Regions from separate parts of the Homo sapiens genome. Here region 1 is linked to region 2. A link means that fine-mapping ties the variant in region 2 to the expression of a gene that starts in the linked region. Tissue or cell type: blood mononuclear cells. Region 2 holds a variant in brackets; the other region holds the start of a gene. All regions are shown on one strand. Distances are from middle to middle.

Region 1 (5,225 bases), 77 kb after region 2:
GGAACTCAGGGTCACTCTCAGTTCTACTTGTCAGGCCTCTCAAGTGCAGGAGGCAGGTTGCAGGGTCTGCCTCTTGGGACAGTGGCAGTATTAGGGCAGATCCCGTCCGGGCCTTCTGCCCAGGCAGTGCTGCATCCTCCCAGGTTACTTTAATAGCTTGTTCTTTGGGCTTTCTAGCTTTTATTTTATTGAAGGTATTTGTCTGTGGGCCTACCAGGATCATGATGTCACCAGATTACGAGGTTGTCCCCTGTTAATAAAAATGAAGATAAAGCAGCAAAATTAGATTTTCTGAGAGTATCAACATTTTCTTGTTGTCTTTAATTTATCCAGCAGGCCTTACCTATCCCAGGTAAGGAATCTTCGTTTTTCCGGAGAGATTGCCAGAGGCATCTCTGCGTTGTGGGCCACGTTGCTTGCGGTCCTGCTAGCATACGTCATCTTCATGTCTTATTCATAGTCACTTTTTCAATTAAATTATTAATTGTTTTCTTTAAGGTGTTCTCAACTTATATGGCCAATATAAATAACAGTGTGTTTTGAAAACACCACCTGTTCTTGGGCCTGAAGTCAGGTGGTCTGGAAGCAGCTCTGCAGTGACCATAGTCTGGTTTGCAAACTCATCCTCCACCTTCCCTGTTGGCTCTTAACTCCCCCCACCCGGCCCCCGTGCTCTCACGTGTGACTGAATTGGGCTTGTGCCCTCCTTTGTCCCTAATCGGACATGATTCCCTGGAGGCAGTCTTTTCTCCCAGGGCCTTAGCTGAAATAAATAAATAAATAAATAAATTTCCCCAGAATCTATTCTGGACTAAAATGTAGAAAGGGGCTGTCTGTACCCAACAGGTTAGATACTTACATTAATCTGAACCCAACTTACATTGTGCAAAAAGCCTTCTATACGGGGATGTGATGGTTTTCACCAGCTAAGCATCCCTTTTTCTCCCGAGTCAGTGTGTGCCTCATGCTAATACAATTCCATACATACTGCTCTTCGCCTCATGAGCTGATTATATTTCTAACACTTGCATGGTTCATTATTGTGCCCGAGGAAAAGACTCTCCAGGCTGTAAGGCCAGCCTGGGTGGGTGGTTTTCAGAAAGGGTAAAAGCAGGTGCCTTTCTGTGCTGTGAGAATCGGGAGTAAATTCAGACTGAGGGTGGGATTCTGACAGGGAGGACAGAGGACTTCCGGTGAGATTTCTTTGGGGCTGGCTTTCAGATGAGAATGGAAAAAGGTGGACTTGGGGAGATAGAAGGCGCCCAGCAATCGCTTTGACCAACTGGAAAAGGTGAACTTGGGGAGATAGAAAGGCGCCCAGCAATCACTTTGACCAACTGGGGTGGCCGCTTTAAATCTTACCCTGGCGGTAGGAACTCCCTGGGAAAGGGCACGATCTTTGCTATCTCTGCGGTGATGTGGCTTTATAAGGTGAGGCTAAGGAGCCTGGAGGCTTACATGGTAGACTGCATCTCCTTTTCTTCCCACTTCTTTTCTTCCTATCTTTCTAGTGATCTCTCCTTTTCTCTTTCTCTGGCCTCAAAAACTATCCTTAAACTCTCAACGGAGAGCAGGGGGATGTTTTTATAAGTTTCTGCAACTGAAAAACAGAAGTGCTCTGTAAAGCAGTTAATAGGATGGGTGTGTGTTTCCAATAAATTCCTGTCCACATTGGCTCCTGTCCCCATGCTTGAGTGGCCTGGCTGTGACGTGGACGGGGCCCAGGGAGCGATGGCTCCGGTTCGGAGGCCTCAGGCTCCTTTTAGTGGCCGAGGGCGCGTCCCTTTCTTCTCGCCCGATTCTAGGCCGGCCCCTGACCTTTGATGAGCGAGGGGTCAGCGCCTCCGGGAGGGCCTGGGCTTTGTTCCCGCCGGGGCCGGTTCCCGGGGCGGCGCAGGCCGAGCGGCGAGGGTTCCTGGCCCCAGGCGGGTGCGCGGGACCCCCGGCCTGCCCCAAGGCCCGCGCCCCAAGCGGAGCGAGCGCAGCTGAGCGCCCGGGTCCCGCGCGTCCCTGTGCGTCCCCGGGTCCCTGCGGGCGGGCGGGCGCGGTCGCCGCCGAGCAACCCGGCCTGCGCCCGGCACGACTGTAGATGTCAGGCTTTGCCCGGGGAGCCGAGCGGCAGCGGGGCTGTGAGTTTCAAATTAACCTTCCGCTTTGTTGCTGTGTAATGTGGATCCCCGAAGGCCCCCCGCCCCGCCCGCCCCCCTTCCCCGGGCGGTGCGCGCTGCAAACTGCGAGTTGGGCTTCATTTACATAAAGCGATTCCGGGCGGGCGGCGGCAGAGGAGGAGGCGGCGGCGGCGGGCAGGCCGGGGACCCGGACGCCAGCGCCGCGCCCCGTGGGTGAATCCCCGCCGCGTCCCGGGGACCTCCCTCCGGGGACGGGCCGACCGCCAGCCCTGCCGCCACCATGAGCTCCCCTCCCCTGTCTCCGGGCCCCCTGCTCCTGACCAGAGCCACCTCCGAGTCCTGGGGCCAGCGGGAGGTGGGGAGCATGCCGCCTGGGGTGGGTGAGCTCGGGGCTCGGGTGCCACTGGAATTTCCCGTTGTTGCGCATGGCGGCGCGGCCCCCGGACCTGCAAGTGCCGCCTCCCTCCGGAGGTGCGCGGAGGCTTGGTGTGCCAGGTGAGTGCAGCCTCCCTCCGGGTCCGCGCAGCCGGCCTGGAGCCGCGGGCAGGTGCTGCGAGTCTTGGCTGAACTTCCCATTCTCTTGGGGCGTGTGGGGGAAGGGCAGGCTGGATGCACTTGAACTCCCAGACTCCAGTTGCCACCTACCTAGGGTGAGAGCGCCTAAATTCTGCTGGGCACACAGTAAAGCTCTTCCTTCCTCCTTCCTTCCCTTCCCTCTGTCCTCCCCTCCCTCCTCCTTTCCTGAGTCTGCTTTTGGATTAGTTCCTGCCTTCTGAATACTTGTGGTACTGGTGTCATTTAGAAGTTTGGGTGCCTCCGCCTAAAAATGCACCCTTTTCAGCCCTGGAGAAGTCGCTGGTCAGTTCGAAACAATGTGAAGAATGCGCTTGTGGAGTAATTAAAGGGAGAATCAGAGTTTTGGAGCTGGAGGGCACCTTTGGAGATCATCTTGTCCACCCTCTAATTTTAGTTTTTTCGCACTCTTGGAAAAGTCAGAGCATTTATTTCCTTGGGCAGGGGCGGGGTGGGGAGCTGATGCAAAGGAGAGAGTCAAGATTTTTATCCTGTTAGGAGGAGGAATGCCTATGTTTAGGTCAGTAGCAGAAAAACAATAACAACAAAAAGAAGCATTGTAGGCTTGGAGGGAAACGAACCTTCTGGAAAATGTTCTTTTCTGCCTTGGACACACCTGTGTTATGATAGGAAAAGGCCTGGAGGGCAAAGACTGCAGCTCACGCATGGTGTGTGCTAAGAGGGAATTGCGTGGCACAGTGGTACCTCCTGTGTTAAACTGGCTTAAGTGAAAGCCGTGAGCAGGTGAATCCAGGAGGGTCATCCCTCCCCCCACCCTCTGTGTCATTTAACAGTCCTTGAAGACTCCCTAAAGCCACTGACAGAAAACCCCAGAGAGAACAGATGGCTCTGCCTGGGCACAGAAGGAAGGCCTCTCCTTCATACTGGGTCCTGCTTGTCAGAATGCACCAGGGCAAAGCCTTGAAGGTAGATTGTGAGAAAGTTACACATCATCTTATTTCTCTCTATGCTTTGAGATCCTTGGAGACAAGTCACTAAATAAATAGTGTATAATTTAAAGCTCACCCTAGCTGGGGAAACTCTGTTTCCTTGCCGTCAAGCAGCAGGTGCGAGTTTGTAGAGTTGGCCCCTCGAGTTCCCTCATTCCTGAATTCAGGAGGTGTCAAATCTTCACGTTCAGTTAATGGCTGTGGTTTCTGGATAGGTTTCAAGGGAAACCCTGAAAATCACGAGTTCCAGGAGGCTGGGCTGGAGGAGGACACGAGAGTGCTGTGGTGGGGACTGCATTGGGTAGGAAAACATACACCTTCCAAGGTAACCTGATCAAGAAAGGCCGTAGCAAGAAACATGAGTCTGCTCCTTGTTATCAGAACAGCCACTGGCAGCCTGAGATTCTGAATCCCTCTTGCTACTCAAACATGAAAAACAATGAAGGCAAAAGTGAGGTGTGAGGGAAGTCAGGAGACCACGGTTCCAAATAATTGAAGGGTTTCAAGAATGGGGTCTTCACAGAGAGGTACATACCTGGATGTTTGCACGCCTGTATTTGTGTTCATTCTGTTTTGCAGAGACCCTGCAGGCACCCTTTCAGAGAGTGTGTAGCTATGATGGCCAAAAGAAACTTTTTCTCTCTCCCTTTGCTAAATTACAGGACTAAGGAGTTCTCCTCATGGTGTTTCCAGCATAGTTTTCAGAAAGCATGTAAAGTGCCTCTCAGAGTGGGCTGGGGTCACAGTTGGCTCTTTTATTTAATTACACAAGTGTTATTTAACAACATGGAGCAGATGCAGAAGCGAGCACTTTTAGACTTTAAAAACAGCCCTTTCAGAATCACAAGGAATTAAGTGACTTGGAGACCTTCTGTCTTTATGACATGGGTCACTTCCCTCTCTCAACAACCCCCCCCCACTTTTTTTTTTTTTTTTGAAATGGCTGTACTTTCTATGAAATAGAGCTACTGTTTTCCATTTCTCCTGAAAACAGTGTTGATGAACAGGGAACTATTGAGAAACACTTGCTAACTATTCAATAATAATAATAATAATAATAATAATAATAATAATAATAATAATGTAAATCCATGCTGCTTCCCCAACCACCTGAAACTTAATTTTGGTTCCTTTTCTTCCATTTTTTGTTTGCACAAATGAATGTTAAGGGAGGGTTGGAAAGGCCCATCTAAAACGGTGCCCTCCACAGGCCCCTGCCTGGCTCTTCCCACCAGGACAGTGAAGTGCCTGCCTTCTTGCTGCTTTGAGGTTGAATTTAACTGCTGTGTCAACTCAGTGCCAATTGGACAGCCCAGTGGCAAGGAGCTAAAATAAGCGAGATTTAGTTTTCATCATTATGACTTTAAATGATGCTTGCTAGACACTCCCAGGACCGGCCTGGCTCATCTTTGGTGACCCAAAAGTGGTTAGTTCATTAGAATAAATCTGTGATTACAGACTGCTGGAAAAGTATTTCTAGGGCTAGTGGTGATGTGGCTTAGTTCTAGCATCCAGGAAACATGTCCTTATTGTCACTGTGTGCAGTTGTTCCTTTTTGGTGTATCTTTCAGGG
Region 2 (5,225 bases):
CCGTTTTCTTTTTCTTTCCCTTGTATTTTGTAAGTGCCACTTATAAACAAGATACCAGGACTCAGGACGTTGAAAATGCCACTTCAGAAAATGTGTCGGCCATCCATCCCTCTGTCCTTTTAATGAGATGCATCCGGGACTGCAGGAAACCAAGACTGCTGCGGAGGCAGGATTGTCGCTGGGCAACCAAGCATCCTTCCAGCTGCCCCAGAAAGAATCTCACAATGTCCTGCAATCCCTGGTCTTCTCACCACCTCAGGGGGCGGTCCTTGAATCCACCCCCATCCTTGTTCCAGGCTCACAAGTGAAATTTACCAGGAGCTGATATTGCAAAATAGATTGCTATTTCGCAACTGACTGCAGTGTGTGGGAGTGGTACAACTTATTAACATGTGCACTGCAACCAAAGAACACACAAGACTGGCTGACGTACACTTTTTTTCCAACGTGTACCCTAAGTGTGGCTGAATGATACATCTAATACTATCATTCACCTATCACGTGGCTCCCAAACCTCCCATCTGTTTCTGTTTCTTCAGTCCCCGCTTGACACATCCAGTACTTCAGTCCCCAAGTCCTGTTGTGCTTCCCCTAGCAGCGCAATGCCCTTGTCTCTTCCCTCCATCTAGGCTGCTATCATCCTCATTCAAGCCCTCATCACCTAGTGCTTGGACCTCTGCAGTATCCTCTCGCTGATTGCCTGGCTTCCAGTTGCTCCCTGCTTTGTTAGTTTGGCCTTGCACACGGATAAATTTCCTGGTGCCCCGCTGTGATTGCCTTTCTCTTCTCTGAAGTCCTCAGTGGCTTCCCAGAGCCTCCCAGAATGGAGGACAAATTCCTCCACCCATCATTCTGGTCCTTGGCTCTCTCCCCATTCTCTGTCTTTCCCCATTCTCTAGCACAAACCCCATACTAGTCCCTGTGGATGACTCACTGCTTCCTCTCTGTGCATTTTTCAGCTATGTGCCTAAGAAACAAATGCTGTGTCCCACACCCTCTTTGAAATTGGTTCAAATCCTGGCTCCATTTCTTATTACTGTATGACCTTGACTGAGTTATCTAACTTCTCTTTGCCTCAATTTCTCATCTGTGAAGTGGGATAATAATGGTACGGTATTAGGGTTCTCTAGAGGGACAGAACTAATGGAATAGATATGTGTGTGTGTGTATATATATGCATATATATATACATATATACACACATATATATATATGGGAGTTTATTAAGTATTAACTCACACGATCACAGCTTCCCACAATAGGCCATCTACAGGCTGAGGAGCAAGGAGAGCCAGTCCAAGTTCCAAAACTGAAGAATTTGGAGTCCAGTGTTCGAAGGCAGGAAGCATCCAGTACAGGAGAAAGATGTACGCTGGGAGGCTAGGGAGTCTCTCTCTTCACATTTTTCTGCCTGCTTATATTCTAGCTGCACTGGCAGCTGATTAGATGGTGCCCACCCAGGTTAAGGGTGGGTCTGCCTTTCCCAGCCCATTGACTCAAATGTGAATCTCCTTCTGCAACACCCTCACAGACACACCCAGGATCAATATTTTATATCCTTCAATCCAATCAAATTGACATTCAGTATTAACCATCACAGTACCTACCCCATAAAGTGGCTATGAAGATTAAATAAATTAATGTATGTACGACATCCAGAATGGTACCTGCACATAGTAGGTTCCATGTCAATGTTTGCTCTATTATTTTCTTCATCTCTCCAAGCCACAACTCAAAGCAGACCTCCTCCATGAGTATTCTGCAGGTCACCCTAGCAAAAAAAAAAAAAAAAAAACAGCTCAATTCCTCTTCTGCCACCCACAGCTCTTGGTTTCTTCCGATAATATAATAATATTACAGCAAACAGTGACTGGGTGCTAGGTACATGATCAGGGCTTTCCTATGCATTATTGCTTTTAAATCCATGGGCTGGATACCTTCCATTTGCCCCAGATCTACTCTCTCACCTTCTCCACCTTGCTTTTTGCCACAGGAGGCTGATTTGAAGCCCAGTGGCTTCCAGTTGGGTTTGGCCAATGAGGATCACTGGCAAAAATAGGCAAGAGGAAG[A/C]AGTTAGATCAGAGTTTGTATTCTCCCAGCCCCCTCCCAGCCATGTCACTGCAGAACAGACTCATTTCTCAACACAAGGTTATGGGTCCTGTTAAGCAACCCTCTTGACCCCACCTGCTCTGTCCCCAGCTTCTCGTCACCATGCCCTGTCCTTGCTTCCCACCTGGGTGCTATCACAACCCCAGTGCGCTACACTCTCTCTTGTGTTTCCCTGAACCCTGACCACATCTTTGTAGATGTAATAGTCCCTTTATAAACTCTCCTCAAGTTATCCTAATACAGATGTGTGACCCTGGCCGACACAGTTCTCATTACAACCCTGCAAAGCATGTACTGTCACTGTTACCGTTGCTATCAAACGTGTCCAGGATTATATCTAAGTGGTGGGACTGAACCTGCCTGGCTCCAAAGCCCGCACTCTGAATCGCTCTAGGGTATGGTCTGAATGTTGAAACCTAATCCTCAATGTGATGATATCAGGAGGTGGGGACTTTGGGAAGTGATTAGGTCATAGGGGTGGAGCTCTCATGAATGAATGGAATTAGTGATCTTATAAAAGAGACCCAGAGAGCTAGCTTGCTCCTTCCACCACATGAAGGCACAGCAAGGAGACATCATCTATGAACCAGAACGCAGGCCCTCACCGGACAGCAGATCTGCCGTCCCCAGTGCCTTGATCTTGAACTTCCCAGCCTCCAGAACTGGGACAAATATATTTCTGCTGCTTAAAAGCTACCCAGTTTATGGTATTTTGTTACGGCAGCCGGAACAGGCCAAAACACACTATTATAATAGCTCTCCTATACAAGGTTGTAAAGTGGTTATTTCTACATGGATTTTCCCACCTGTGACTCAAACTGTATTAGTTGGTTGGTTGGTTGGTTTTGCCATCTGTCTTAGTCCATCTGTACTGCTATAACAAAACACCACAGACTGGGTAACTTATAAACAATAGAAATGTATTTCTCACAGTTTTAGAGCCTGAGAAGTCCAAGATCAATGTACTGGCAAATTTGGTATCTCATGAAGTCCCATTCCTCATAAATGGCATCTTCTTACTGGGTCTTCATATTGCAGAAGGGGCAAACAAGCTCCCCCAGGCCTCTTCTATAAGGGCATGAGTCCCATTCAGGAGGGCTCTACCCTCATAACCTAATCACTTCCCAAAGACTCTACCTCTTAATGCCCCTAAATTGGGGATTAGGTTTCAACATATTAATTTCCAGGTGACTCAAACATTGAGACCATAGCACCATATTTTTAAAATATCCAAAACTTAGAGACTTAAAACAACAATTGTTAATTAGCTCACCATCCTGGAGGCTGGCAGTTTGGGTTGGGCTTAGCTTGGAAGTTCTTCTGTTGAGTTCACCTGAACTTGTGTATGTGGCTACAGTCAGGTGAGGACTGTCTGAGGCCTGGTGGTCCCAGATGGTATCACTTATGTGCCTGGAACCTGGGAGGGATCCACAAGGGTGACCAGGCTATGTGTCTCCAGGATCTAGTAAGCCAGTCTAGACTTCTTCACATGATGGCTGGATTCCAAAAATAGCAAAAGAGAGCAAACCCCTCTGTGCAAGTGCTTGTCAAGCTTCTGCTTGCATTAGGTGTCCTGATGTCCCGTGAGTAGTATAACCCAGATTCAAGGGCTGGTGAAACTGACTCCACGTCTTGGTGGGAGGAGCTGCAAAATACTGTAGCCATTTTTTTTTTTTTTAATCTACCACATGGGACACTCCTTTCCGGAAAGATCTATGCCTTTGACAACTTCACATCCTGTATCCTCATAACCCAAGTCAGAAAAGCAATGTGGGGGCTGGCCCTGTGTTTTAGAGGGTGGGGAGTGTCCTCTTTATAGCTTGGTGAACATCTGACACTCTTCCTGCCTGTTACCACCAGACTGAAAATAATTCTGAAAGGGCAGTCTCTTAAAACGTAGCATGAGGGAGTGGAATTTTTTTTAATTAGGCTAGAGCAGAATTTTTAAAAGAATCTTTTCTTTTCTTCAGTTGCCTCTCCCTTGTTATACATTTTAACTCCACCCAGCGGCCGACCACATCCAGCCTGGGCTCTCCTTCTCGCTCCTCCACACCACTGTTTGCTTGGCAGCAGTGCTCAGCTCCCAGGGCCACGGAAAGCCGAAGGAGAAGTCTTGCTTCCTGCTCTCCTCACTTCGTGTTTTCTTTCCTCTGCTCCTTCTGGGGCTCACCCTTAACTGCTGACTCCTGCTCTGTGCCCATCTGGTGCCCCACTAGGAACAGGATGCTAGGAAGGGCTGGACAGTTTGTCTACAGGGAATCCCCTGATGGCCCCCCAAGTTGGTCACTGCACCCCGTGGTGGCCTAGAGACACAGCCAAAAGACTTGACCTCCAGGAAGCCGCAAGACAGAAAACAAATCCTAAAATTAGTTATATGTGGCCAGGCACAGTGGCTCACACCTGTAATCCCAGCATTTTGAGAGGCCAAGGCAGGCAGACCACTTGAGGTCCGGGTTTCGAGACCAGCCTGGCCAACATGATGAAACCCTGTCTCTACTAAAAAAAAAAAAAATACAAAAATTAGCCTGGCATGCACCTGTAGTTCCAGCTATTCAGGAGGCTGAAGCATGAGAATCGCTTGAACCCGGGAAGTGGAGGTTGCAGTGAGCCGAGATTGCGTCACTGCACTCCAGCCTGGGCTACAGAGTGAGACTCCATCTTAAAAAAAAAAGAGCAGTTGTATGTGAAATTATATTTAAAGATACTTGTGAATTTGATGTGGCTATCCATTAATTAATTTCACAAGTATGGATAGGGTACCTACCATGTGCCAGGCCCTGGAAATATAAAATATGGTTCCTGCCCCTGAGAAACTTATAGTCTTAGTGGGGAGAGAGACACACGAAGACAATATGAATTAATATTCATGAATAATAATATTCATGAAGAGAATATAATTAATATGAATAGGTTGGAGCAAAAGTAATTGCAGTTTTCACCTTCAAAAGTAATGGTGAAAACCACAATTATGGCTGGGTGCGGTGGCTCATGCCTGTAATCCCAACACTTTCGGAGGCCGAGGCAGGTGGATCACGAGGTCAGGAGATACAGACCATCCGGACTAACATGGTGAAACCCCGTCTCTACTAAAAATACAAAAAATTAGCCGGGTGTGG

Evidence for each region. PIP is the estimated chance that this variant, and not a neighbour inherited with it, causes the effect.
Region 1: it holds the start of ZFHX3, and the variant in region 2 is fine-mapped to the expression of ZFHX3 in blood mononuclear cells (TOPMed, PIP 0.95).

Annotation. Positions count from the first base shown.
Region 1 is chr16:73,045,151-73,050,375 of GRCh38, reverse strand. It overlaps ZFHX3 (zinc finger homeobox 3), which reads left to right and starts at 2,248. Exons shown (of 10, transcript NM_006885.4): 1 at 2,248-2,624. It overlaps LOC124903719 (a long non-coding RNA gene), which reads right to left and starts at 2,798. Exons shown (of 2, transcript XR_007065116.1): 1 at 2,576-2,798; 2 at 1-250. RefSeq lists enhancers at 1,347-1,882, 2,419-2,954 and a silencer at 1,808-2,657.
Region 2 is chr16:73,121,769-73,126,993 of GRCh38, reverse strand. It overlaps a transcript of ZFHX3 not described here. Among named protein-coding and RNA genes, the nearest start is that of HCCAT5, 32 kb to the right of the region's middle. RefSeq lists enhancers at 2,393-2,892, 3,760-3,969. The variant A/C (reference allele first, on the strand shown) is at 2,071.